Regions from separate parts of the Homo sapiens genome. Here regions 2, 3 and 4 are each reported to be linked to region 1. Evidence: microRNA targets listed by miRTarBase, many of them from high-throughput screens and not tested one by one. Region 1 holds a microRNA gene; each other region holds the end of a gene's coding sequence.
The links. The annotated mature microRNA hsa-miR-320d reads AAAAGCUGGGUUGAGAGGA and lies in region 1 at 4,422-4,440, opposite strand. An mRNA with a match to its seed (bases 2 to 7 or 8) in the 3' UTR can be bound and repressed. Matches are read on the target gene's strand: a 7mer-m8 pairs with bases 2 to 8, a 7mer-A1 pairs with bases 2 to 7 and ends in A, and an 8mer does both.

Region 1 (7,123 bases):
GTATATGAGTTCGTACTTGTAGAGTGCTTGGAAGAGTACCTTACACAAACTTCTGCTGTTATTGCTATTTTCAGATGGTAACCTATTTGTTGTAAATTTCCTGAAGGTACTTGTCAGTACGTTCGATAGAAGATTTGAAGCACTTCACTTGGTCTAGCAGTTCACTTAAATAGAGACTGATTAAATTGGGAGTATCAACAAGAAGCTTTTCCCCTATGTTTTCATCTAGTATTAACGTTTCAGGTCTTGCATTTAATTCTTTTATCCATTTTGAGTTGATTTTTATGTGTGGTGTAAGATATGGGTCCAAATTCATTATTTTCTATGTGGATATCCAGTTTTCCCAACCCCAGTTGTTGAAGAGAATGTCCATTCCCATTGTGTGTTCTTGGCAGCCTTGTAGAAAATCAGTTGAGCATATTGTACATGCATGGATTATTTCTGTGCTCTCTATACTGTTCCAGTGGTCTATATGTCTGTCTTTATGCTAGCATGATATTGTTTTAATTACTGTAAATATTTATAAGATATTTTGAAATCAGAAGGTGTGACGTTTCCAGTTTTGTTCTTGCCAATTAAACCTCAGTCAAACTTGAGGAAAAAAATAGGATCAACAAGATAAGAATGAGTTCTGCCACTGTGAGTTGAAATGAATTCTAAACTCTGATTATGCATTAAAATTACCTGGGAGAAGCCGGGTGCGGTGGCTCACACCTGTAATCCCAGCACTTTGGGAGGCCGAGGTGGGCAGATCACGAGGTCAGGAGATCGAGACCATCCTGGCTAACACGGTGAAACCCTGCCTCTACTAAAAATACAAAAAAATTAGCCGGGCGTGGTGGTGGGTGCCTGTAGCCCAGCTACTCGGGAGGCTGAGGCAGGAGAATGGTGTGAACCCAGGAGGCGGAGCTTGCAGTGAGCCAAGATCACGCCACTGCACTCCAGCCTGGGCGACAGAGCGAGACTCAGTCTCAAAAAATAAATAAATAAATAAATAAATAAATAAATAAATAACCTGCGGGGCTTTGAACACATTTTTTTTTTCAAGTGAGAGCAAGTTTATTAAGAAAGTAAAGGAATAAAAGAATGGCTACTCCATAGACAGAGCAGCCCCAAGAGCTTCTGGTTGTCTATTTTATGGTTATTTCTTGTTTATATGCCGAACTAGGGGTGGATTATTCATGAGTTTTCTGGGAGAGGGGTGGGTAATTCGGGGAACTTAGGGTTCCTCCCTTTTTTAGACCATATAGGGTAACTTCCTGACATTGCCATGGCATTTGTAAATTGTCATGGTGCTGGTAGGAGTGTCTTTTAGCATTCTAATGCATTATAATTAGCATATAACGAGCAGTGAGGACGACCAGAGGTCACTCTCGTTGCCATCTTGGTTTTGGTGGCTTTTGGCTGGCTCCTTTCTGCAGCCTATTTTATCAGCAAGACGTTTATGACCTGTATCTTGTGCCGACCTCCTATCTCATCCTGTGACTTAGAATGCCTAACATCCTGGGAATGCAGCCCAGTAGGTCTCAGCCTCACTTTACCCAGTCCCTATTCAAGATGGAGTCACTCTGGTTCAAACACCTCTGACATTTCCCCCCTCCCTTATACAAGGGAACGCTTAATCCTAAGGTTTGTAGAGGGAGGAAGGTCCATCTTCTGTAACTTCTTCAGGCTGAATAAAGACAATGATATTCCTACCTAACTATTAGGGTCTCTTGTATTCAGGGTAGAGAGGAGCTCAGTCAGAAACTGTCAGTATGGTGAAGGCCATTTGTAACTCCAACAAAAGGTAATATCTGGAAGATTAGTAAGTGTTCAGTTTAAGAAAACGTTGAGTAAGCTTATCCATCATTCCTACACAAAGAGTACAACAGCAAATATATTCCACAACAGTAAAGTAAAAAAAAGTAAATCCATCCCAAGTAAACTCAATAAGAAGGCTTTCCATGAACTGGGCAGCTGTTGGAACCAAGCTGATATGGAATTGCTATACATGCTATACATTCCAATACATGCCCAGAATTAGAATACTGATCCAGATTATTACATTAACCATCCCTCTTGTTTCTTCTGATCAGCAGCCAGAGATCACTGGTTGGTTCACAGGAATAAGCAGAGTTAGTCTAACTTGCAGAAAAAAACTCAAAAACAACTGATGAGACTATAATTGAGTAACAGGTATATCATAGTTTTTGAAACATATTTTTCTCTCTCCAGTATCCCATTTTTATGAAAGACAAATCATAGTAAGACTGATTTGCTTTATTATACTTGGCCTGATTATTTGTGTAAAGTGCAGCAAGAATAATTGTTTTTATATAGGCCTTTAAAATTGGCTTTGATGGAACTTTGTTCCATAAAAGGAATCTCAGATAAGAGTTTTTTTAAAGCTGAGCACAGTCATGGGTTTGTACCCTCAAATACCTATGAGTTGAGTAAATTCCTCTCCTCTTGAGATCCCAAGATAACAAGGGGCTCCTAGGCCTGTTAGAAAGTGACATTCTTTACTTACCACAGGTCAGGAACCCTGTACAGGGACTGTGCAGACAAGATAGGAGGCCAGTTTTCCCAAGGGGCTTTTATTGGCTCTATGCCCCACCCAAGCTGGCAATTCAGGATCTCTGGGAGTGGCCCTGGCTTCCTAGGTGATTCCAATGTGCAGCTCTAGAAGTCACTGCCTCACAGGAAGGTGTGATGGTCTTAGCACTTAATATGGTTCAGCTGTGTCCCTGTATGAATCCGTTCTCACGCTGCTAATAAAGATATACCTGAAACTGGGTAATTGATAAAAGAAAGAGGTTTAATGGACTCACATGGCTGGGGAGGACTCACAATCATGGTGGAAGATGAAGGAAGAGCAAAGGGACTTCCTACATGGCAGCAGGAAAGAGAGCATGTGCAGGGGAACTCCCCTTTATAAAACCATCAGATTTCATAAGACATTCACCATCACAAGAACAGCATGGGAAAGTCTTGCCCCCATGATTCAATTACCTCCCACTGGGTTCATCCCATGATACATGGGAATTATGGGAGCTATAATTCAAGATGGGATTTGGGTAGGGCACAGCCAAACCCTATCAGTCCCCACTCAAATCTCACGTTAAATTGTAATCCCTATGTAATCCCCATGTCAAGGAAGAGACCAGGTGGAAGTAACTGAACCATGGGGGTGGTTTCCACAATACTGTTTGTGATAGTGAGTGAGTTCTCATTAGATCTGATGGTTTTATAAGAGTTTGGCATGTCCTCCTTTGTTCATTCTCCTTCCTGCCACCTTGTGAAGAAGGTGCCTTGCTTCCCCTTCACCTTCTGTCATGATTGTAAGTTTCCTGAGGCATCCCCAACCATGCTGAACTGTGAGTCAATTAAACCTCTTTCCTTTATAGTCTCAGGCAGTTCTTTATAGCAGTGTGAAAATGGACTAATACAGCACTGAAGGATGAGTGGGATTTTATTAGGCAGATGTGTTGGTAATAACTCTTTGATCTAGGTGGTACAGATTCTTTTATCTTCATGTTTTTTGATTAAGAATCTAGGTTTCCAGACACTTAGCTCACACAGTAGCAGAGCAGGCTTTCTAAAATCAGGTCCAATGGTCTTTCCAGGACTCCAGGCTGTCAAAGCCAGGAAGGATTGAAGCAATTAATAAAAATTCATATAAATCTGCTCTGTCTTTTCAAAGTAGAAGTAGTCACAAAATGTTTTGTGTGAATTTTGAAATGAAATAAAACATCAACCTTTTTATGTAGATAAGATTTACATTCATATTTTCCTCCATAATGAGAAATGTTTTATGTTATCTGGATTGCAATTATAAGCTATATAAAAAGAGGGTTTTTTCTTTCAGTAAGTGTCTTATAGCATAAATATGATAAGAATTTGACAGATTTGCTGTTTTTTTCAAATTTATGCTAGCAATTCTCAGTAAAAAACATTTCTATCTTTCCACTGTTATTTTACCTAATGCATAAGGAATATAGTAAATAATATCATATGTGAAATCCAGCTAGAGCAGTAGCATACAAATTGAATAACTTGATGGTCTACTGAAACAGCCTCTTGCCACCCCCATATTACACACACACACACACACACACACACACACATACACACTATCTAAACATAAAAAACTCTAGCTAACTGAACTGGAGCAATAAAAATTAAGTAAAATAGAGATTACCTCAGAAGTGCATCCAAATCATACTGCAAGAATACTAAATGTGATTATTTTAGATGTTTTTTCTTCTTTAGATGTTTATAGACAGGAAATAGTGCATTTTTCTCCAACAACCCACAATATCAAGGCTTACTTGAGTGCATTAAAATAAGTAATTTTTTGTGGCAATATAATAGTGGGAAATCCAGCTTTTTTTCTTGAATTTAAAAATAACGATTTTTTTTTCTTTTTTCTTTTCTGCTCCTCTCAACCCAGCTTTTCCTGACTCCAAGAAGAACTGGGAAGAGAAGGCTTATTGATACATTTGAAGACATTTCAGAAGTAGAATTACAACTTTAGAAAGGCTAAAAGTTCCCACTTGCTTAAAGGTGATAAGAGCTGGTTAGCTTTACAAGGGCTCTAAGAACACAGTGAATATACAGACTTTAATGTGAAAAATGGCTACAAGTAATTGACTGGAGAATCCCAATTTCCAGTGGCAGCAGTCTGAAAATAAGCTGTCCACAGGGCCACACTCCCTTTAGGGCAGGGGTCCCTAACCCCTGGGCCACAGACCAGTGGTGAGCAGTGGGCCTGTGAGCATTACCACCTGAGCTCCACCTCCTGTCAGATTAGCATCCACATGAGAGTCTCATAGGAGCACCAACCCTATTGTGAGCTGTACATGCAAGAGATGTAGGCTGCATGCTCCTTACGATAATCTACCTAAAGCCTGATGATCTGATGTGGAACAGTTTAATCCCAAAACCGCCCCCCAACAACACCTCCCTGAGTACGTGGAAAAATTGTCTTGCATGAAACAGGTCCCTGGTGCCAAAAAGGTTGAGGATTGCTGCTTTAGAGGCTCTAGAAAAGAGTTTGTTCCCTGCCTCTCCCAGCTTTTGGTGGCTCCAAGAATTCCTTGATTTGTGGTAGCATCAATCCAATCTTGCCTCCGTCTTCACATCACCTTCTCCTCTATGTGTTTGTCTCTTCTCTTCTGTTTCTTATAAGGACACGTGTTATCAGTTTTGGGGTCCACCTGGATAATCTAGGATAATCTCATTTTGAGATCCTTACCTTAATTACATCTACAAAACCCTTTCCTCAAATAAAGCAACATTCACATATTCCAGGTATTTGGATGCGGACATATCTTTTGGGTTGGGGTCCCTATTCAACCCACCATGGTTTGTTTCAGTGGAATTAGGGCTGTACCATCTGCTCAAAAACATTAAAACAATTAGGAGGAGCATGAGTGTACCTCAATATCTTATTTGCAAAATGAAGATAGGGACATAGTTTGGTTAGCTAAGGTACGGTGTTTGGCTAAAATGCCATGTTTAACCAGTCAGCATCCACATCTTTAAGGTTTGCTTGTACCCGGTATAATCTCGTTTCTTGAAAACCGAGTAAGTGAAAAATTGGAGGTGAGGGCATAATAGAAACCATATAAAATAGAAAATATATACAAGTTTCTTTCTTTATTTCACTTGTTAGTAGTTCAGAACTTCATAAACACAAATATTACCACTAGCAAGCAGACATCCCCCAAACTCAAAAGTAAAGCATCGACAGATGTGTCTGGCTAGTTGGGTGAGACCATTTCCAAATACTACTTGTAAGTTACTGAGTTGGTTAAGGATCAAATGAGGTTCTGCATTTGAGGTTCTTTTTAAATTGTGTGGTATCATACAAGTGTAAAATATTGCAGTTGCTCTTTTGAAGGGGATAAGAATAAGTGTGATATCATAGATGAACACTATCAAAAAAATTTTTCAGTAAGTAGAAGTTAAAGACATTTTTGTTCGACACACCAAGCATGCTTGCACCTAGTTGGGGTGGTCATTGGGGTTTAGTGTCTGATTATAGATCAATCTAGCAGGTTATTTCCCTCTTCAAGAATGAATTGGGTTTGCATTAGAGATAATCTCCTTGTGCAGAAGTAGGTGAGTCAAGAGGAATTCCTTTCTTGCTTTATTAATTTATTTAGTTATTTATTTAGCTGATACTGATTCATTTGGGATGTAAAGATAGATGAAAATCTTAGAGAAAATGATTACACAATGAGGGAATTTGAGATCCTAGGGAAATAATAATCTGTCAGCAAGATTAAAAATCACTTTTAAGAAAGTGCATCTCATATTTGAGACATATAGTTGCAAAGATTCAGTAGAAAAAAAAATTCATCGCCAATATAATAACAGAGTTAAATGCCATAGAATAGTGGCTTTCCAACTTTTAAAAATCAAACCCCAATTTTTCCCTCAATTAATCTTACCTGGAAGCCCAATACATAAAAGAGACTAAAATGCAGCTGCTCTGGTTGTACTCTATGAAGCTGAGGGCGCGGATGAGGGCCACAATGGACTTGTCGGGGAACTTGCCACAGTTACAATTGTTTATTTCTTGTGTGATTCTTTGATCAATAGCTGTATTCTCCACCAGAGAAGACACCACTCCAGGCTGGGACTTTGATTTTGCTCTCGATTACATCTTTAGTGGCTAACACAGTGCCTGGCACTCAGTATATACTTGTGTTAATGAATGAATGAATGATGGAGAAGACAAAAAAAAAAGTGAATTGAAACAAGCTGGTCAGGCTGATGTCTGACACATCTCAGATGGCAGTGTTAATCTTTTTTCATCATCCTAGCATTTGTCACCAGTACTGGCAGCCAGAGAGAACATTGCATTTTGGTGCCTGGTGTAGTTCCTAGCACACAGTAGATTTTGGTAAATTAAATAAGTGATACTCAGTACATATTAGTTGACCAAATGAATAAGGTGCTAAATGATTGAATAAATGAATGACTGTGTTGTGATAGAATGAGGACAAGTGATTCAATTTTCTGTCTTAAAATAATTTTAAAAATAAACCCCAAACTCCGTGAAGGATCCTAATGAAAGCCTCCTAGGTGTCTTTTTAAAAAGCCAAGACTACATTTAATGTAAGTTTCACTT
Region 2 (7,123 bases), not on the chromosome of region 1:
CCAGGCTGGTCTTGAACTCCTGGGCTTCAAGTGATCCTCCCACCTCAGCCTCCAGAGTAGCTGGGATTATAGGTGTGAGCCACCATGCCCGACCCAGGTTTCTTGTTATAATATGGATATATAGATGTGTCTTAGGCCCTTGTTACCTTCTCCTGTGCTGTGACCTGTTAACAGCCAACTACAAAATGGAACTTGTTTCTCCATGGGAAATGCCAATTGTAGTTAATATTTATTGTGTTCTTACTATTTGGCATGTGCTGTTCTTAGCTCCTGTGTTTTATTACTTCATCTCGTCCTCATAGCAACTCTCAGAAAACTGGGAGATTGAGTTAGAGTTGTGATGTTTGGGCTAGAGGATGACAAGATGAGCTGCTTTGTCGGTTCCAGATATCTCCAGCCCAGCAGAGATGGCCCTCTGCAGTCTAGCCGTATTTTGCCCTTCCACCATTCTTGGCTGTGACCTGGTCCAGCTGGGCCCTGAATGAATGTTTGCTTCTCAGGCCAGTATTCTCCCCTCCTCACCAAGCCACCTCCACACAGCTCTAAGGAAGCTCCCCCAGGTCCAGGCCTCAGGGGAGCCCTGCCCTCAGGCCGACCCTACTGCCTTTTCAGAGCCCTCCCTGCCCTCCTCGGAAGTTGCTGATGAACCTCCTACCCTCACCAAGGAAGAACCAGTTCCACTAGAGACACAGGTAAGCAATCACTTTGAGTTTTCCAGTTTTTTGTTTTTTTGGTTTAAGGCAGGGTCTCGCTGTTGCCCAGACTAGAGTGCAGTGGTGCGATCCTGGCTCACTACAACCTCCACTGCCTCCTGGGTTCAAGCAATTCTCCTGTTTCAGCCTCCTGAGTAGCTGGGATTACAGGCGCCCACTACCACACCTGGCTAATTTTTGTATTTTTAGTAGAGATGGGGTTTCACTATGTTGGCCAGGCTAGTCTCGAACTCCTGAGCCCAAGTGATCCACCCATCTCAGCCTCCCAATGTGCTGGGATTATAGGTGTGAGCCACTGTGCCCGGCCAGGCTTCCCAGTTTCTAAGTCAAAAAACCAGGAAAGACTGTGGATGTGGGGTTGGATCTGCAGCGCCGGAAATGAGTCCCAGGGTTGTAGGCAGGGGAGGATGTTTGATCATCTGCTGGAAGGAGCAGAGTGGACATCCCATTATAATTCGGGTGGGTGGGAAGGTTCTGGTTGGGAGGGGTGGCCCTGGCATTCCATGCTCTGCCTGCTCCTAGGTCGTTGAGGAAGAGGAAGACTCAGGTGCCCCGCCCCTGAAGCGCTTCTGTGTGGACCAACCCACAGTGCCGCAGACGGCGTCAGAAAGCTAGCACCATCCCGGCCCTCCGCCTCCTGGCCCTGCCTCTATTTATTGCATTCTGGTTCTGGCCGCGCCGCGTTGCTGGGGTAAGGGCAAGCACTGGGGTCAAGAGCCTGCACACATGAGCCTTCCGGGCTGGAAGGCTGGCGTAGGACTTGGGGCTGTAGCATCATCTTCCTGACCCTGGCACCTGTGTCTACTTGCTCCCGAGAAGAGGAGCGCTCATGTCTTTTTTGCACCCCAAGTTGGCTGGAGCATCGGCCACCCCAAGATTCATCTGTGACCTCCAGGCAGCAGTCTCTGCTCCAGAATCTCTGGACGGAGCTGCTGGCAGCTTCTGCGAGAAGAGAGAGATGTGGAAGGCACCTTCTAGAAGAGAGCGTGCCTCAGGTTACTTGAACTTGAACGGAGACTGTAGACTCCCGGACTTTCCCCTAGGACTGGGGGCCCTGTAGGCTGCTGTTGGAGGACTGGGTAGAGACATTGGAGGGAAGGGAAGGGCTTTTCTCCACACAAGGGCAGAGAGTCCGTCTAGATTTCTTGCTGTCCTGCCAGCTCTGCCCATGCCTGAGGTGGTCCTACCTCTCACGGGCACCCTAGCTGCTGACAGCCCTTTGTGGCCGCCGTCCCCATCCCCTGCCCTCAGCACACACATCTGCACACACGCAGCTTTGTTCTCACCTCTACCTGTCATTCCAGCATCCCTGCCTCTTGTCACAAACTGCCCCAGCAAGAATTTGAGGTTCTGACAACAGTACCCATCCCCCACAGTACCCCTTCAGCTCAGTTTCTAGAAAGCTCCCTTTTCTTTGAAATCTGCATGTTGAATTGAACTTTGTGATTTTATTTTTTGTTTCAAAAAAGTTTAAGAAAATGGAAATGGGCAACAGTGAGTGAAGACATATTTTAGCACTGAATAGAATATTTTTAAAATTAAACTATTTGAAATATGTCCTGTTGGTATCTGAGTGCTTCCTTCTTGAAGGTTGCGGGCCGGGGTGGGGGTGGTGGCTGAGTGCTTGTGGGGTCACTGTGGGCTGGGCCTGCCCATCCTTTCACTCCCACAGTGTGGACTTCATGACAGTGATTTCTAGCCTCCCTTTGAAGCTGTCACGTAGTTCAAATTATGCTTCTCGCTGGGCGTGGTGGCTCATACTTCTTATCCCAGCACTTTGGGAGGCCGAGGCAGGAGGATCACTTGAGGCTAGGAGTTTGAGACCAGCCTGGGCAACACAGCAAGACCCTATCTCTATCTAAACAATATTTTTAAATTAAAACATAAAAACCAGGCCAGGCGCAGTGGCTCCCGCCTGTAATCTTAGCACTTTGGGAGGCTGAGGTGGGTGGATCATCTGAGCTCAGGAGTTCAAGACCAGCCTGACCAGCAAAATGAGACCCCATCTCTACTAAAAATACAAAAATTAGCCAGGCATGGTGGCAGGCGCCTTTAGTCCCAGCTACTTGGGAGGCTGAGACGAGCATTGCTCGAACCTGGGAGGTGGAGGTTGCAGTGAGCCAAGACTGCGCCACTGCGCTCCAGCCTGGGTGACGGAGCGAGACTCCATCTCAAAAAACAAAACCAAATTCCATCCCTGTGTACACCAAATGCAGCCCATGGATGTGTTTTCCACAGGTCCATGTAGTTCGGAGGGATTCATGAGTTCTTTTTTTCCCCCCTTGTGGTAAAATACACGTAACATAAAAGGTTTTTGTTTGTTTGTTTTTTGAGACAGAGTCTCACTCTGTCACCCAGCAGGCTGGAGTACAGTGGTGTGTTCTCAACTCACTGCAACCTCTGCCTCCCAAGTAGCTGGGATTACAGACGTGCACCACCACGTCTGACTAATTTTTGTAATTTTAGTAGAGGTGGGGTTTCACCATGTTGGCCAGGCTGGTTTCGAACCCCTTAGGCTCCCAAAGTGCTGGGATTACATGTGTGAGCCACTGCACCTGGCCAAGAGTTACTTTTGTCACCATTGTGAAGTGTGCATTTCAGTGGTACTGAGTACTGAGTACATTCACAGTGCTGGGCAGTCCTCACAGTCCAGCTCCGAACTTTTTTATTATCCCAAATGGAAACCTCATGTCCAGTTAGCATCATTCACCATTTCTTCCCCTCCCCTCGGGCCCTGGCAGCCACAGATCTGTTTATTTCCCGGAGTGATTCCCCTCATTTCTCACAGGGGCTCCAGGTGTCATGGATGAGACTATAATACAAGTTCTACTGTTCTATGTTTTGTTTTTGTTTTTTTTGAGACGGAGTCTCGCTCTGTCACCCAGGCTGGCAGTGGCGGGATCTCGGCTCACCGCAAGCTCCGCCACCCGGGTTCACACCATTCTCCTGCCTCAGCCTCCCGAGTAGCTGGGACTACAGGCGCCTGCCACCACGCCCAGCTAATTTTTTGTATTTTTAGTAGAGACGGGGTTTCACTGTGTTAGCCAGGATGGTCTCGATCTCCTGACCTCATGATCTGCCCGCCTCGGCCTCCCAAAGTGCTGTGATTACAGGCATGAGCCACCGCACCCGGCCCCTGTTTTATCTTTTCTTACAAAATATAAATAGGGCTGGGGCTGGGCACGGTGGCTCACGCCTGTAATCCCAGCTACTCGGGAGGCTGAGGCAAGAGAATGGTGTGAACCCAGGAGGCGGAGCTTGCGGTGAGCTGAGATCACGCCACTGCACTCCAGCCTGGGCGACAGAGCAAGACTCCATCTCAAAATATATATATATATATAAATATTTTTATATATATAGGGCTGGGCACAGTGGCCTGTAATCCCAGCACTTTGGAAGGCTAAGGCAGGAAGATTGCCTGAGCCTGGGAGTTAAGACGAGCCTGGGCAACATGGCAAGACCCTGTCTCATTAACAAATACAAAAATGTAGGCCGGGCGTGGTGGCTCACACCTGTAATCCCAGCACTTTGGGAGGCTGAGGCGGGCGGATCACGAGGTCATGAGTTCGAGATCAGCCTGACCAGCGTGGTGAAACCCCCATCTCTACCAAAGATACAAAAAATTAGCCGGGCGTTCTGGCACATGTCTGTAATCCCAGCTACTTGGGAGGCTGAGGTACAAGAATCTCTTGAACCTGGGAGGCGGAGGTTGCAGGGAGCCCGATTGCGCCATTACACTCCAGCCCGGGCGACAGGGTGAAACTCTGTCTCTAAAAAAATAAGTAATAATCTTTTAAAAATGTAACAGCCAGGTACAGTGGCTCATGCCTGTAATCCCAGCACTTTGGGAAGATCGCTTGAGCCCAGAAGTTCGAGACCAGCCTGGGCAACATGGTGAAACCTCATCTCTAAAACAAAAACAAAAATTAGCTGGGCATGTTGGTGCATGCCTGTAGCATCCCCTGCTCGACGGCTGAGGTGGGCGGATCTCTTGAGCCCAGGAGGTCAAGGCTGTCGTGAGCCGTGATCATGACACTGCACTCTAGCCTGGGCGACAGAGGGAGTCTCAAAAAAAGAGACATATAAAATCAAATTGTCAAATGAATTTTACAGATAATGTGATTGTATGTGGTACACAAAATACGTATTTTTTTTCTGAGACAGAGTGTTCTCTGTCACCCAGGCTAGAGTGCAGTGGCGTGATCTTGGCTCACTGCAACCTCCGCCTCCCAGGTTCAAGCAATTCTCCTGCCTCGGCCTCCTGAGTAGCCGGGATAACAGGTGCCTGCCACTGTGCCTGGCTAATTTTTGTATTTTTAGTACAGACGACGTTTCACCACCTTAGCCAGGCTGTTCTCGAACTCCCAATCTCGTTATCCACCCACCTCAGCCTCCCAAAGTGCTGGGATTACAGTCGTGAGCCACTGCGCTTGACCCTTTTTTTTTTTGTAAAGACAAGGTCTCACTATGTTGCCCAGGCTGGACCCACCTCGGTTTCCATTTCCCAAAGTGCTGGGATTACAGCCGTGAGCCATCATGCCTGGCCAACATAACTGTTTTAATGTGTTTAAACAAAGGAAAGTATAATGGGCTGGGTGCAGTAGCTCATGCCTGTAATCCCAACACTTTGGGAGGCTGAGGAGGAGGACTGCTTGAGTCCAGGAGTTTAAGACCAGCCTCAGCAACAAAGGGAGACTCCATCTCTACAAATAATTTTTTTTTTTTTTTAGTTAGCTGAGTGTGGTGGTGCACACCTCTGGACCCATGTACTCTGGAGGCTGAAGCAGGAGGATTGCCTGAGCCCTGGAGGTCAAGGCTGCAGTGAGCCATGATTGCACCACTGCGCTCCGGCCTGGGCAACAGAAAGAGACCTTGTCTTATTAAAAAATAAAAATATTGGCCAGGCGTGGTGGCTCATGTCTGTAATCCCAGCACTTTGGGAGACTGAAGCAGATGGATCACTTGAGGCCTGGAGTTCGAGACCAGCCTGGCCAACATGGTGAAACCCCATCTACTAAAAATACAAAAATCAGCTGGGTGTGGTGGCACACACCTGTAATCCCAGCTTGAGCCCTGGAGGTGGAGGTTGCAGTGAGCCGAGATCTTGCCACTGCACTCCAGCCTGGCCTGGGCGACAGAGCAACACTATGTCTCAAAAAAATAAATAAATAAAAATATTTTACAAATACAGTTGTCCCTTGGTATCTGGAGGGGTTGGTTCCAGGACCCTGGTGGATACCAAAACCTGCAGATGCTCAAGTCCCACAGTAGGCCATGTTCTGCATCTCTTGAATCCGGTATTTTTGATCCACTACCAGTTGAATTTGTGGATACTGAGGGACAACTGTATTTGTTGCAAACATAATCTTGGTAGGTTCTTTGTAAAGTATAACTGGTAAACACATGGTCACTGCCTTTAAGGAGCTTATGGTCTGATGCAGCAGAGAAGGTGGAGAAGTAGGAGCCATGAGGGGTCGTGAAGGTGGAATACCATTAGGGTCTGGAGAAGAATCTTGGAGGCTTTGAGATCATAGAAAGTTTATAGAGCTGGGCGTGGTGGCTCACGCCTGTAATCCCAACACTTTGGGAGGTCAAGGCAGGCAGATCACCTGAGGTGAGGAATTTGAGACCAGCCTGGCAAACATGGCGAAACCCCATCTCTACTAGAAACACAAAAATTAGCCGGGCATGGTGGGCACCTGTAGTCCCAGCTACTCCAGAGGCTGAGGCAGGAGAATCACTTGAACCTGAGATGTGGAGGTTGCAGTGAGCTGAGATCATGCCACTGCACTCCAGCCTGGACGACAGAGTGAGACATCTTAAAAAAAAAAGTTTATAAAATAGGTGGTGTTTGAGTTGGGCCTTGAGAAATTTGGATATGAGATCTTTTTTTTCTTTTTTCCTTTGAGATGGAGTTTCGCTCTTGTCCAGGCTGGAGTATGATGGTGAAATCTTGGCTCACTGCAACCTCCAACTCCCGGGTTCAAGTGATTCTCCTGCCTCAGCCTCCCGTAGCTGGGATTACAGGCATGCGCCACCATGCCTAGCTAATTTGGTATTTTTAGTGAAGATGGGGATTTGCCATGTTGTTCAGCCTGGTCTCGAACTCCTGACCTTAGGTGATTCACCTGCCTCGGCTTCCCAAAGTGCTGGGATTACAGGCGTACGCCACCACGTCAGGCCAAAAAAATTTTTCTTTGTAGAGATGAGATCTCACTATTTTGCCCAAGCTGGTCTCAAACTCCTGGGTTCAAGCAATCCTCCCACCTCTGCCTCCCAAAGTGCTGGGATTACAGGCATGAGCCATTGTGCTCGGCCTACAGATATTCCCCCCCCCCCCCAGCTTTTTGGCTGAATTACTTGAAAATAGGTTGCAACATTATGACTCTGCTATGGTTTGAATGTGTCCT
Region 3 (7,123 bases), not on the chromosome of region 1:
ATTTTTAAAAATACTACTTTTAAATCTATTTTTTGCATACAGATAGTCACAGAGAGTTTTGTGAAATAGTGCTAAAACTGTTCACTTTTGCCTAGATCCCTCAGAACATCCAAACCAAAGGTCAGTCACTAGGAGACATCCCAGGAGCATGCTAATTCCATCACAGCAGGGCCTAAGAATGAGGTCATCTTTCTCTCATTCAAGGGAGACCTTAGTTTCCTGCTCTCAGCGACACTTCCATAGCCTCATGATAGCTGCTTGGTGTTCTACAGTGTCTCCAGATCCAGACCCTCTTATATGGACCGCAGGACAAAAGGACTCTGGCCACCCAGCAGGCCATGGGCATGCTGTCCACGTGAGTTGGCGTCCCTCACACTTTCTCTATCTCATTCCCTTTCCATTCAGAATCTCAAGAGAAAGCTGGTTCTAGAAGGTTCTGTGTAACCTTCTCTGGAATGTTTTGCTGACTTCCCATAACTTGCATAAAGGACAAGTTCCTTTGAAACCCGAGTTGTAAAAGATCTTCCTTGCCCAGGTATTTAAAAATAATTCATCCTTTAAGTCAGAAATATATGCTGGATGTTGTCTTCCTGCAGACCAGCCCCTGCAGGCTAAGGCACCTGCTGCAGGGGGAGGGCCCCGGGAATCCCTGTGGCCTCCTGCAGCCCTGCTTCCGGCTTCCCTCTGCCCTCGGATGCCCGTCAGGACTGGAGCCGGAAGGTTCACTGACTGACCTTAAAGGCTGGCCCCTACGTCCTTTCTCAGCCCGAGCAGAGGCCCAGCGCTCTGCCGTGGAGGGCCTACCTCACAGAGCCTGGTCCGCAGAGAGCAGCCCCAGGGCTGCCTGAGTCTGCTCAGGGAAACAGGGCCACAGCCCGGAGCAGACACAACCTGGCCAGCAGGGCGCCATCCCCTTTGAGGGCAGGGAAGGCGAGCCAGGGAGGCCTCCAGTGCAACCCTGACCATCCTCCTCACCCATGTCCTGCTCACCAAGCCAGCTAAGGGTTGAGGGCCTCAGCTCAGTGAGGATGGTCACAGGTGATTTTAAAAGATGGGAGGGGCCAGGCGAGGTGACTCATGCCTATAATCCCAGCACCTTGGGAGGCCGAGGCGGTGGATCACTTGAGGCCAGGAGTTTGAGACCAGACTGGCCAACATGGCAAAACTTCGTCTCTACTAAAAATACAAAAATTAGCTGGGCGTGGTGGCATGTGCCTGTAATCCTGGCTACTCGGGAGACTGAGGCATGAGAGTTGCTTGAACCTGGGAGGCGGAAGTTGCAGGGAGCCGAGATGGGGCCACTGCACTCCAGCCTGGGTGACAGAGTGAGACTCTGTCTGAAAAAAAAAAAATTAAAAAAATAAAAGATGGGAGGAAAACATCTCATGTTTTATGCTCTGTGCTACAATTCTCCTCTCATTTATAGCCCCTACCAAGTCTTCTCATAAATGGGTCTGGGCACCTGCTGGGCAGCAAAGGCTGGATGGGAACGGTGTGGGGGGCTGAGGGGCACCACACTCACCCCACCCTCTGCTTGTCTGCAGGGCCCCCAAGGTTGCTTCGAAGCCAAGGCAGGCATCAAAAGCCAAAGTGGCCTTCTGCACCAGCATCCCTCAGGACACCCTGCTGGGGAAGGCCCGGCCCGGCACAACAGCAGACTGAGGCCCCCACCCTGAAAAAGCCTAGGACATTCCTGGGCACTGTCATTTAGGGTGCTGTACAAATCACCTCCGCCTAGAAAATGGAATTCAACAGTCAGGATACAGATTTCCAAGGCCAACTGTTGGCCCCAACATGCAACAGTGAGACCATAAGCCTCCCGTGGGCCACATTTTGACAGTGGATGCCCTTCAGGGTGATATATGCTATAAAGCAGTTTTCTATCACCTAAGTGGTTTTTCTTGCCAACAAGAATTTTTACCCATCAGCACTACTGTGGCTGAAAAACTTCTCTTCAACAGTTCAGTGCGCCCTGTGCAGGAGTCAGCCCGGCATCTGCTTGTACACACAGCTCCTTGCATAGGTGTGGAGTTAGATCTGGACAGTGAACTTCAGGAAGTCCTTTCTTATAGGAGGCTAATAGGGATTGAGAATAACATGAGAAGAAAACGCTAATAAAGGGAAACCTGAACACGCTGCTGTCAGCATGTGTTTTCAAAGTGCAGCCTGCCTCAGAGTTCTTCGGAGCCTGAAAAGGGGTTTGAGAAAGAGCCCAGTAGGAGGGGCAGGAGGCCGACACACCTGACTTGGCCTGGGGCCCAGGAGGCAGGTGTAAGGGAGTGAAAAGAAAGGCTAGCCGGAGGCTGCGGGGGGAAGACCGCAGACTCCCTGCTGCTTCGCATCCCTCCTGTGGCCTCCACTGCAGGCAGGACAAACCTGGATGCCACCTGGAGCTGCTTCCTGAGTTGGCACACTATCGTGTACACAGCAGTCTTCAGCCCCCTGGAAGGAGGCCATAGTCGTGTGAGGATGGCAAAGTCGAACAGGAAGCTTTGAGTGCCTTCCTCCACGATGTCAACGAGGAGATCCAGTGCCAGATCGAGGTGGATGGAACACCCAGGGGTAGGGGTGCAGGTGTGGGCAGTGATGTCCCTTCCCCTCCCTCCCCTGGTCCCACAGACTGTGGCCATGAGGCTGCAGGCTGGTGCTATGACAGCAGATTGCAGCACAGGGCCCTCCCCTCCAGCCCCCAGTGGGACATCAAAACCACCCTGGGGCCATTTGTGCAGGGCACCACCTCCAGTATTGATGGGGAAAATAAACTCAGTAGAGCCACGACAGGGTGGAGAGAAGCAGGGACCATTGTCTTCCTCAGGAGCGTGACAGCTGACCCCACAGACCATGCTTGCTGGTACACACTGGTCCCAGACCCAGGCCTGTCGGACATCAGCAGTGTGCTAAAAACGTGTAAGATGTCACTACTCACCGTGTGTCCTATCTAGTTGACATGGGTGGAGTCAGCTAAGGGGTGAATGTTCATATGCTCCCAATTCACGTTGAAGCCCTAATCCCCAAAGGGATGGTATTGGGGGTGGGGTCTTGGAGAGGTGATTAGGTTATGAGGGTGGAGCCCTGATGAATGGGATTAGTGCTTTATAAGGAGAGACACCAGAGAGATGATCTCTCTCTCCACCATGTGAGGACACAGTGAGAAGACAGCCGTCTGCAGGCCCGGAAGAGAGCCCTCACCAGGAAATGAAACTGTTGGCACCTTGAGACTTCCCAGCTTCCAGAACTGTAAGAAATAAATGTTTGTTGTTTAAGCCTTTCAGGCTACGGCTTTCTGTTACAGCAGCCTGAACTGAGAGTCCATGCCGAGTTTTTGAAATAAATGTGAATTCTGATGTTACTTCTTCCTTTCTGTACTTCTTGAAGCGTAGCTTGGAATCACAAAAACTAAAACACATTTTTAAAATTTAGCGCCCCCACCCCACCCCACCCCAGGAAGCAATGAATTTAGGAATGTTCCCTCCAATGTCTCCCATCTGTTAATTCTGTTGACTTCAACGAGAGGAAGACTATAGCTACTTGTGTTTTTCTATTTTTGGTAAAGGGCTACAAGGTTACAAACGGGTAAAGATATCTAGCTATTCCTTTGTCTCAAACTACCTCAGTTTTTTCAAGCCCCTAAGAAATGGCCATGCCTTAGGGTTAACCCTCCAATTTGCACTTATAAGGTAACCAACTGTCCTGGTATGCCCAGGACAGTCCTGGTTTTAGCACTCAAAGTACCACATCCCAAGAAACCTCTCCATCCCAAATGGGATGGTTGGTGGTGTCCTACTGCCACTAGTCATTCAGGCTGTGATGATGACATTTTTACCACAAATTGTCCAGTGTATATTTGATTACAAGCCAATTGGCTTATGCTCTGTCTGCCAGGCTTTCTAGCTCTGTGCTCCCAATATTGAGTTCCGATTCAGGTGAGGAATTAGAGAACTGGAACTTTTCATATATATTCTGCCCAGTAATTCTCTGCTACCCTAAAAACATGCATGTAAACACACAGATTCTTTACTTAGAGTTTAAAGGAAACATCAAAATCTACTGAAAATATTCATTCTCTTTAGGAACAATGTGGGTTTTTTCCTCAGATTTTTATTTTTGCACATTCTTGTGACATTTCCCATTGTAGGGAACAGGAGTTTAGCAAAATCAGCTTCTTAGATGATGTCATTCTAAATATACATCTTAAACAAACAATATCAAAACCACCAGTAGGAAACTGAAAAACACTCAGTGAGTACTGTTTTGTCTCAGTAACAATAAATACAAAAAGACTGGTTGTGTTCCGGCCCCATCCAACCACGAAGTTGATTTCTCTTGTGTGCAGAGTGACTGATTTTAAAGGACATGGAGCTTGTCACAATGTCACAATGTCACAGTGTGAAGGGCACACTCACTCCCGCGTGATTCACATTTAGCAACCAACAATAGCTCATGAGTCCATACTTGTAAATACTTTTGGCAGAATACTTCTTGAAACTTGCAGATGATAATTAAGATCCAAGATATTTCCCAAAGTAAATAGAAGTGGGTCATAATATTAATTACCTGTTCACATCAGCTTCCATTTACAAGTCATGAGCCCAGACACTGACATCAAACTGAGCCCACTTAGACTCCTCACCACCAGTCTGTCCTGTCATCAGACAGGAGGCTGTCACCTTGACCAAATTCTCACCAGTCAATCATCTATCCAAAAACCATTACCTGTTACAGCTAAAACAAAATCAGCACATCTCTGTCTGTATTAGAAACGACAAAACCTTACAAAGCAGTCACCTCCATACCAGTCTGACAATCACTAGTTCATTTGGCAGATGGACAACAAAGGTTTAAACTTGCTATTCCAATCAACTTTCTTTCCCTATCTGATTCATGGTGTTTTTAAAATAGTATCTTGAAAGCTGTGCTGCATTTCTCCTCCACTTATCAATGAAGAAAACGTGCTCTCCAGAAACTACCTGCGGTAGCCACTCCCAGGACCTGGGGAGACGTGCACCCTGGGGGTCTGAGGGCCTCCAGGTGAATCTGAGAGGGAAGACCCTCCAGTGCTGTCGTTGTAGCCTGGCTGAGGGTGGTGCTAGCTCAGACTGTTATTCCCCAGTGCGCCACAGTCAGTGCGATGATGCTGTGTTACTGGAAATACAGCTGAGACAGCATTATGTGAAAGAAGCTAGCCTGAACTAAAAAAAATGCGCTGCTAGCGAAACTCTTTTTATATATGATGCTACACTTTACAGACAGAAACTTTAAAACAATACTGACGTGTAAAATAAAATGAATCCAATGAAGCATGCTCATCCCAGTATCTTAAACTCGGTGGTGCCTATCTACAGGTCCACACTCCGCGGCCCATGAGCATGGGGGCCTTTCTCGCCCCCCAGGCCCGTCCTGGGTATCTCGGTGCTGGGCTGCAGGAGAGATATCCAGTTCCTTCCCCAAAACATCCTTCTATTTAATAAACTGTTTCCCTGGACAAAACACCCCAACTGCAATGACTTCTGTTCAAAGTGCAAAAAAAGCTTCCGTGAGGTGGGTTCATGGTTGTTATTGTATTCATCTTTCACCCTTGAGCTCAGAAAGACCTGCATCCCATGAATGGAGGGTTGGGAAAGGCATCTTTAAGAGGCACAGTCCACTGTGTGCTTCCAATTTTCCTGTACACAGCCAGCTTGCCGGTCCAGCTGCAGTCTGAGTATCGGCATTCTCTTCATTGTCTTCAAGGTCTACCTCCCACCAGTGAAATTAAATGTTTGGGTGCTAAGGGATAAGGTGCAGAGAAGCGCAAGTCTGCACAGTCTGATAGGAACTGGCCACTCCAGAAAAGGGCATTCAGACTGTGTGCTACTTAATGACCTAGTGCCAAAAAATGAAATGGTACTGTAAGCGATTCCCAATAATCATCTACCCTACCAGTGCCAGGGAACCTGTGCAAATAGAATGTGAAATATCACAACAGACTACAGCTGTCCTCGCCATAAATACTATATTGTTTAAAGTTCTGTACATAGAAAGCAATTCATTCAAGTCTTAAGATGAATTTAGCTCTATATGGCAAGTAATTTTTTCCTAAAGATGAAATCATTTAGCAAGAATTTTTTTAACATAAACAGTCTGCCTATTTCCCATTTCTTTTTGAAAAGACTTTTTAGAGTCTAAATTGTATTTATTTTTCCCCTAAAATGTTAGTCTGTTATTTCATATTAGCACATGCAAGCAAAATTTACTCTTAAATATATTACTTTAATCTGGTTAATGTTTTGACATCTATAATTAATTGTAGTTTCAAACAGATGCAAGCCATGTCTGTGACCAGGTGCAAAACATAGAAATTCATCTCCAGAAGTGGAGAGAAGACTCCAGGGAAAAAAGTGTTTTGTAAAAGTCCCAACTCAAAAATAAAATTGCAGTGCCTTTTAAGGCATGAATTAACTGGAAACCTTTACGGATTAACTATAAAGGAAATTGACCATGCCGGGAGTACTCTTTAAAAAAGTAAAAAAGGGGAGATTTTCATAGACTCCCTCGGCCTCTTAAAATAAGTTAAGGCCTTTGGATGTTGGCACGTCGCCAACAGGCTGCCATTAAAACAAAATGTTTCTGCTTATTAAAACCAATGCCCATCATTCTCCTCCTCCTCATTGTCTAGATAGAGGAGGGCAACTTTCTTTTCATCTGAAATCACCGACCTTTGGTCTACCATTCTCTGGAGCTGCACCTTCTTATCAAACATGGCCTGCTCCTTGCCCTGTTCTCTGTGGGCCTGGTCTCCTTCCCCAGCAGAGGCCTTAAAGCTCACACCAACTGCCTGGTCATTCCTACTGTCCGCGTCTCTCCAGGAACCACGGTCAGACACACCGAGAGCTCCCGCTTCCTGTGTCCGGCTGCGGATCGCCTCTACGTTACTCACATCCATCTGAAAGGTAAACGAAGTTTCTTTGGGCCCTGGTGCAATGTGCCTTAGCGTTCTGCTGCTGTCTGCTAACTTGCCTAGCTCAGGGGAGTCCGCTGAACCAGCAAGCACAAATGTTCTGGACACGGGTCCACGGATGGCAATGTGTTCAGAGGTTTCCGTTTCTGTAGGACCTAGTCGAATGTGCCTAAAGGATCTGCTAAC
Region 4 (7,123 bases), not on the chromosome of region 1:
CCACCGTGCCTAGCTGACAAATATATTTCTATTTCCATCCTTTTTATTTTTCTTAATACTTAAAAAAATGTACTTATACCTCTGTTATTTGATTTAGTGATTTTATCTTTTGGTCTTACTATGGAAGATGAGGAAGATGAGAAAATCTACATACTTATGCTGCTCCCACCTTTCTCCCTCTTCTCTTCCAACATTTCTTATTCGTTCATTCACTTTTTTAAATGAAGAAAAGGAAACTTAAACTGTATCCAGTAATTATAAAAATGACCCAAAACATCCTTCAGGTCTATATTTTCAGTTTCATGGGTGAAACCTACCCATGGAACTTGGTGAGTTTAGAGTAATTGGAAGAGACTGGCTGAGAGAACAGGGAAAAACCAGGGCGTGGGAAGCAGTGCCTGTCGGCAGCCTTTGGGTTTGGGTTTGGACTGTTATTTGGACTGTTACACTTGTCATCTACCTCACTTTAAATGTTGGTTTATGATTTTTCATGGCTATCCTTGGTTTGACTTTTCTAATCTTAAAATTTTAGACAGTAATATGAAGGGTAGCATTGTTTTCTGAGCTGCAATAACAAGTGCCAGGGAATTCATTTGGGACCAGTATCAAGCTGAGGGCCACACCTGAACCTCAGTTTTTACCAGCTCCTTCCCTTCCCTTCATGGCCTTCCATTTTTGTGTCTAGATGTGCCTTTTATTCTTCTCTTCAGGTCTACCAGTTGCTGGGCAAACCTCAGAATTTGTTAACCAAGTGTTAGAGAAGACTGCAGAAGGGAATCCCACTGGAGGCCTTGTAGGATTAAGGATACCAACATCAAAGGTGTAATCAGCCTCATTGGACCACTGGTCAGAAATGTCTGCGTTTTGTCACGTTATCCATTGTAAATTTTCATTCTGTTTTGCATGTCAGTTAGCATTATGTAAACATTTACAATTAGGTTACATTGTTTTAAGAACTAAGTAGCATAAGTGAAGCATGATCCAAAATACTTGATTATTGCATTTTCAGAGCATAAACCATGATTAAAACTGCTACTGGCATCAGAATTGAAAATCATATGTTTAAGTAAATGTTAGGTACAGATTACAAAAATCTGTTAAAGCAAAACATTTTGGAGGAGTGAAATAGTAAAATGCCAAGTATTGTGGCAGATTTATGCTCTGAACCACACAAAAAAATTGAGGAAGCATTTTTTTAAACAGTCGGTTTAAATTGTTTTTAGAATTATTGCTTTTTGTTCTAATTTTCCACAACCATTAATCTCACTTGTATATGGCACACCCAGCACTTGTGCCTGTGGGCCATATTAGATGTTCATTGTCAGAGCTCAAGATGATATATATAAATATATATATATATATATATATATACACACACACACACAAATGTCTGTGCAAGTAAGAAAAAAAAAGCATATTCTTTGTGCCTTGTATTTTGGGGAAACTCTAAAACTGGTAATATTTTGTATGATGAAAACCCTAATGAGAAAAAACAAGATATATAGATGGAAAAATTATGGGGTTTAAATGTTTTTTTGTTCCAACTCTTTTTCAGATTTTTTGAATGTATATAGGACTATGTTGAAATGTAGATATATGCCACAGAGTCTGTGTATTGTATAAAAAACAAAACAAAAAACAACAAAAAAAAGATGGCTCTAGAAAACTCATATTTCGGTACTTGACCGGAAGAAGACAAATACTTGCACATTATTGCGATTGTTTTATTTTTTGTACCAAAGACAAATGCAACTGATATGGCAAACTGCCAGTCTAAGTAAAGTTTTGCACAGCTTACATGATACTGTATGAATGTATGAAAAAAAAGGAGAAAAAAAAGAAAAAAAAAGGTCAGGGTTAGGGATCTTACTGAACTGTGAATTTTATTTCTGTTTGGGTCCAATTATCTACAGAAGGAGCATCCATACATACAAATATTATTTTGCTGTTCCTCTAGTTCGCTTCCATAGTAGATAAGTTGGTGGCCATTTAGATGTCTTTTATTTCTGCACTTATTGTAGGAAATTTTAATATATTTCATTTTAGTAAGCTATTGATAAAATAGTTTTTGACTTTGAAAATTAAAATGTTTATTTAGCTTATTGTAGTATACTTCCACCAGACAACAAAATAGATTATTTTTATTGTATTATGTATATATATATATGTAAAGAAAGAAAAAAGCTAAAAATATCTAATTCTTTAGTTGCCACTTTTCCGATTGATGTATTATTGTGCATGTAATATTTTCAAAGATCAACACAGGCTAAAACAAAAACAATTTATAGATTTTTATATTTTTGTACAGGTATTTTCAAACTAGCTTCTTCAAACTTAACATGTGACTTATTCTTCTATAGTTTCTAGAATTGAGAAACATTAACACATTTAGTTTTTAGGTGCTCTTTTTTGCTCATATAAAACAGCTTCATTAGTCAGTGTTTTAACTGTGTTCAAGCTTTACCTCTTGATGAGAAATTTCTTATGTCAAGGCAGCATTATAAACCTTCCCCCACAGATTTTTCCATCCTGTCTCTCTTACTGTTTTATTCTCAAATCTTGTGCTTTGAACTCTGAAAACTGGTGGCTTAAAAACTAAAAAAAGAAAAAAAGCATATTTAGCAAGGAAAAAAATACCAAAAATTTCAGGCATAGCTGCTGGAAAAATTATCTATTTCTCCATTACCCACTGTAGGATTTCTTTTTTAATTATACTTTGACTATAAAGTGTCAAAGTATAATTTGTTCTTTTCTTTTACTTTGTTACCCCATTTGTAAGCTATAGCATATGAAGCTATATATATAGCTTGTGAAGGTTTGATCTAGAACACCCAGTAACAAATGAACAATGTTGCTTACCTGCTTCTTTGACATCTTAAAAAAGAAATCCAAGGAGGATTGTAAGGATTGTCTTACCACCTTAGCTGAACTGTGATGCACAAGATTTTTCTATGTGTTTGGTGGAAATGTACCTGGTTTGTACATTCACGCTAAACAGATGATAAGCTCAAGTCTGATGGTTTAATAGAATGTAAGTTCATCGTTTAAAGCTTTTCCTTTTTAGGTTGGAGAAGGCAAAACACAGGCTTGCAAGTTGGAAGTATATGAAGTCTTGACAGAGTGTGTCTGGTAAATTGAAAAGTGTTTCAAACTATGGCAGTTTTGCAATCAGGTGAAAATCACCTCATGATATTCAGCTGATAAGGTTTATAAAATTGCCCCTTTCTAGCTGCTCTGTTAGGAATTCTGGTTTTTGATACTTTTTTCCTGTCTGCAAACCAGAATTTGATTTTTTGGTCTTGCATTTCAAAAAAAAAAAGACTTTGAATCTGTTTAGTAGATTCCATATCTTTGAGTTTCAGTGTTTTATATGTACTACTTAAGTTAAATAGTTAAAAGCTTTTAAATAGTTGAGCTTTTTAATGTTGACACTTTATTTTGTACCTATTTATATATGTATGTATATCTTAGAAAAGCACTTTGTTAAAAAAAAATTGCATTTTATATGATTCCTGCCATTTGCTGCTAAATCTGGGCTGGTCAGAATGCTGCAGCGATACTTGATCTATATAAAAACCTGGCAGTAAAATGTAGAGTGAAAGTTAAATCCTCTTGCTGTTTTAACTTTATCATAAAGATGACATAGGCAAGCTGTGCAGCTTTACATTTTAACCAGGGGACTCTGTGGCATTTAAAACCGTCTAGAAATGGTTGTACTTTAATGCCAGTAATAATCTGCTTCCTCTATTGTCATTAAAATATATACGTTTAGTGTATCACACAAACCAATCTTATAAGGGTAATGTAAAAACCCCAACAATTGTACATGTTCTGTTTTTGAAAATTGTGGCATGTATTTTTGGGTGAAGATCATTAGAGAAGAGTTCTCTAAAGGTTTTCTGTGTTCATACATGGTATACAGATAGCTCATAATGAAGTCCAGAATCTTACTTTTAAGTGAAGGCATTGTGAATTCACCTCAAGTAAACCCATTGTTCCAAAGCAATTATAAACTTTGACTCTAGTACTACTATGATTTAAAAAAAAAAAAAACCAACAAAAACCTTTTTTCCTAGTTTCAGATACACTGGATTCTTTATAGAGTTTGTCTCCATATGAAAGCATGCTGTCCAGTCGCTCTTGTTAAGATCTTGTCTGAGTTTTGAATTGGGTGCCACACTTTTCCAGTCAATATAATTGCTTGTTCTACTGTACCATGTATGATTCTTGTCCTTTCCTATATCCTTCATGACAGATTATGATGTGGCTTTATATTGTGCCTTACTTGTACATTTAAAACTAAACGTCTTCATTCCCTTCCACTTCCTACATCTTTAACTTTGACCTTTTTGGTAAGAGAATCAGAACTATTACAAAAGCATCATGAAGGATTTCAGATGGGTATGGTTTCAAATTCCCTCTCTTTATAGTTATTTTATATTTGTATGAAAGACCAGTTTTGGATGGTCTTTGAATATAGGGGGGAAAGATTAGCAGTAATTTCACTACATCCCTTTTCTCTGACTTTCATGCATTTCTCATACATCTTCTTTCTGATGCTTGACTTTATTTGCTTCCTAGCAATAGTCTGCATTTAAAGAAAGGTGTGTTCAATTCATCAGCTTGAAATTGACTATTTCATTTTTCCAGGATTTTTTAGGAGAAGAGTACCCATTTTGTTTTATAAAAACAGATGACAAGTCTCTTTAAAAGAAACAGAAGTACAGTACTTTTGAAATACAATGCTGTTAGTTTGGATTTCTTTTTATATATATATATAATATTCATACAATGATCTGATGTTTGCCTTCATTAATAAAGCTGTTAGTTTATTCACCAAAATGTCAAGAATGGATGTGCTTTTCTTTATTCCACACATTTAAAAAAATTTAGCTGCTAAGATTTAATGTTATAAGAAATGAATTCAAGTTGCCTTCAGCAAGAATTAACAAAAACTTATGTTCCCTTTCTTTATATAGTTTCCTAAAATTCTGTTCAAGTATTTTCTAGTTAATTATGTAACAGAATGTTAGCATCTCTCCATATCTTGAAACTTGAATTTTGAGAATGCATTGAATTATGCTTTCAGTGTTAAAGTAAAAGGTTTCAATTATCCTTCTAGTGAAGTCTGTTGTGGAATACCATTTCCCATGGAACTGAGGCCATTTCCACAACTTTGCACAGAACTGCAGTCTTGTTCTTCCCTTGGATCATGACAAATAAGTCTCACACAGTGCCGTAATACTTGTGGATTCTTTTGTAATCTTTGTAATCTTAATAAGGGCATTATGAGAAGACGACTCCATGTTTTTTTAATACTTCAAACACATTGGGATGTAACAATGAATGTCAACTGTAGGAATGGTGGTTTCGTTTTAAGGAATAAGCATGTTGGGGAAAGATGATGAAAATGTACTACTGAAAGTTATACACTTCCATAGGCAAATGGGATTATGTGTTGAAGCATAGTCCTCATGCTTAATAAACTGACTGAAATCGTAGAAATTACACCTAGGAACTGAGCTAGGCCAAATTGCCATTTTTGTTTAGAGAGTTTTGGAGGTAGTAGTGAGGGGACAGAGCCTTAAAACTACTTCCAAACAGTATTTTGGAATTGAAGACTTGGTAACTAGTGAAGAACATCAAAGTTGGGTATTTCAATGTGCCAAGTTTGGGTGAACTAGGTTCGGTTTGCCTCTTTCATAACAATGTAAACACAATGGTGTAGTTAATTAAATTCTGGGTGGATAGGAGCAGGACTGATTACTATGTCTTGCCCTTCGCCCTTTGTTTTTTTCAGAACCAAATAACAGAAATGTGTATGTGTGTACTGTATCTGCCTTTCCACCACATTTTTATGACACTGTATTCCACTGCCTGCTTTTTTACCTTCTTTCCCTAGGATTTGTCCTACAGCTTAGTATTGTGGTTGACAGCGATACTAGGGCTGACAGCACAGAAGTCACAAGAGAAGAGTGGAAGGGCAAGAATTCAAAGCATTTGTTCATACAATGTGGCAACCTCTTTTGCATAGTTGCGTAGGATCCTGTTTGTAATGCTATCATAAATATTCTGTAGTTTTTTTTTTTTCTCTCCCAACTGGAGCTATGACACTTTTTATTGGATTCAGTCTTGTCTCTTGTCTAGAAAGAACTTTATCTTGTTGACGCATGAGCTGTTTAAAAATTATCCTATTAAATGTTGGTTAATAGTTGTGCAGTTTTTCATTTCAGATGGAAAGGCAATGCAAATTTTGCCTTTGTTTTCTGTCACCTTCCAACCCCTGAGCACTTCTAGTCAGATACAGATTCATCAGTGTATGCAACATCCTTTGTAATTTAAAATAAAAAAAGATGAAAAGAAAACGTTCTGAATTGTTTGCCTCATGTTTTCGCCCTTCCTTTCTGTACTTATATCTTGCTTACCTAGGTAACCATCCGCTCCTCAAGATAACCTATTCCAAAGAAATTCCAAATCACAGAGAGTGGTGAACTGCTGGTCTGCTGCCCCTCTCGTGGTAATAATCAAAGAGCTAACATTTTTTTGACACTATAGGTTGATTTTTCAATATTTTAGTGACATTTAGCTATTATATAGAATTATTTGTTGATGTAAGCATTTGCATTCTTCACAGCTTAGAGGATATTCTTATTTCTCCTCTTTTAATCTTTGGGCAAGTGTTCTGCATGGGAAATAAAATATTTTGGGTCTCTCCTGATTTAAACATTTGTATGTGTTTGTGTGTTTAATCACTCTAAGTAAGTCTCCAAACTAAGCTGGGCGTATATATAGAGGCTTAAATCCAGAGACCTAAGTGAAGGCTTCCATCAGAGTATGTGGCTGAAAGTCAGCCAGCAAATATTTGTTGAGCACTTACTCTGCCAGGACCTGTGCTAGGTACTGGACAATAGAGAGATGAAAGAGAACTCCAGGAACTCAGAGCCAGCATGTGAACAGGATTGCAGAACAACACAGGAGCTGTTACAGATATGCAAAGGGCTCTAGGCACATTATTGTTGCTGAGGTGTTTTCATGGACACATCCAGTGGTGTATTAGAGAATTGATAGACTTGGGTTCTTAGTATCCTGGACCCTTGAAGAAACCCTCTTTGTTTCATGTGAG

Region 2: the mRNA of BCL7B is a reported target of hsa-miR-320d. Seed matches in the 3' UTR shown: 7mer-m8 at 1,985-1,991.
Region 3: miRTarBase lists SYNM as a target of hsa-miR-320d. Seed matches in the 3' UTR shown: 7mer-m8 at 4,907-4,913.
Region 4: the mRNA of CREBRF is a reported target of hsa-miR-320d. Seed matches in the 3' UTR shown: 7mer-A1 at 2,457-2,463 and 8mer at 3,657-3,664.

The regions. Positions count from the first base shown.
Region 1 is chrX:140,921,751-140,928,873 of GRCh38, forward strand. MIR320D2 (microRNA 320d-2) reads right to left here and starts at 4,481; the gene lies at 4,410-4,481.
Region 2 is chr7:73,531,503-73,538,625 of GRCh38, reverse strand. It overlaps BCL7B (BAF chromatin remodeling complex subunit BCL7B), which reads left to right. Exons shown (of 6, transcript NM_001707.4): 5 at 613-692; 6 at 1,236-2,270. The coding sequence ends at 1,328. Among named protein-coding and RNA genes, the nearest start is that of BAZ1B, 13 kb to the right of the region's middle.
Region 3 is chr15:99,132,549-99,139,671 of GRCh38, reverse strand. It overlaps SYNM (synemin), which reads right to left. Exons shown (of 4, transcript NM_145728.3): 4 at 4,079-7,123. The coding sequence ends at 6,614. It overlaps TTC23 (tetratricopeptide repeat domain 23), which reads left to right. Exons shown (of 14, transcript NM_001288615.3): 13 at 273-355; 14 at 1,545-3,349. The coding sequence ends at 1,662. TTC23-AS1 (TTC23 antisense RNA 1) reads right to left here and starts at 355. Exons shown (of 2, transcript NR_186223.1): 1 at 1-355. RefSeq lists an enhancer at 2,407-2,908.
Region 4 is chr5:173,132,920-173,140,042 of GRCh38, forward strand. It overlaps CREBRF (CREB3 regulatory factor), which reads left to right. Exons shown (of 9, transcript NM_153607.3): 9 at 711-6,365. The coding sequence ends at 826. Among named protein-coding and RNA genes, the nearest start is that of BNIP1, 8.0 kb to the right of the region's middle.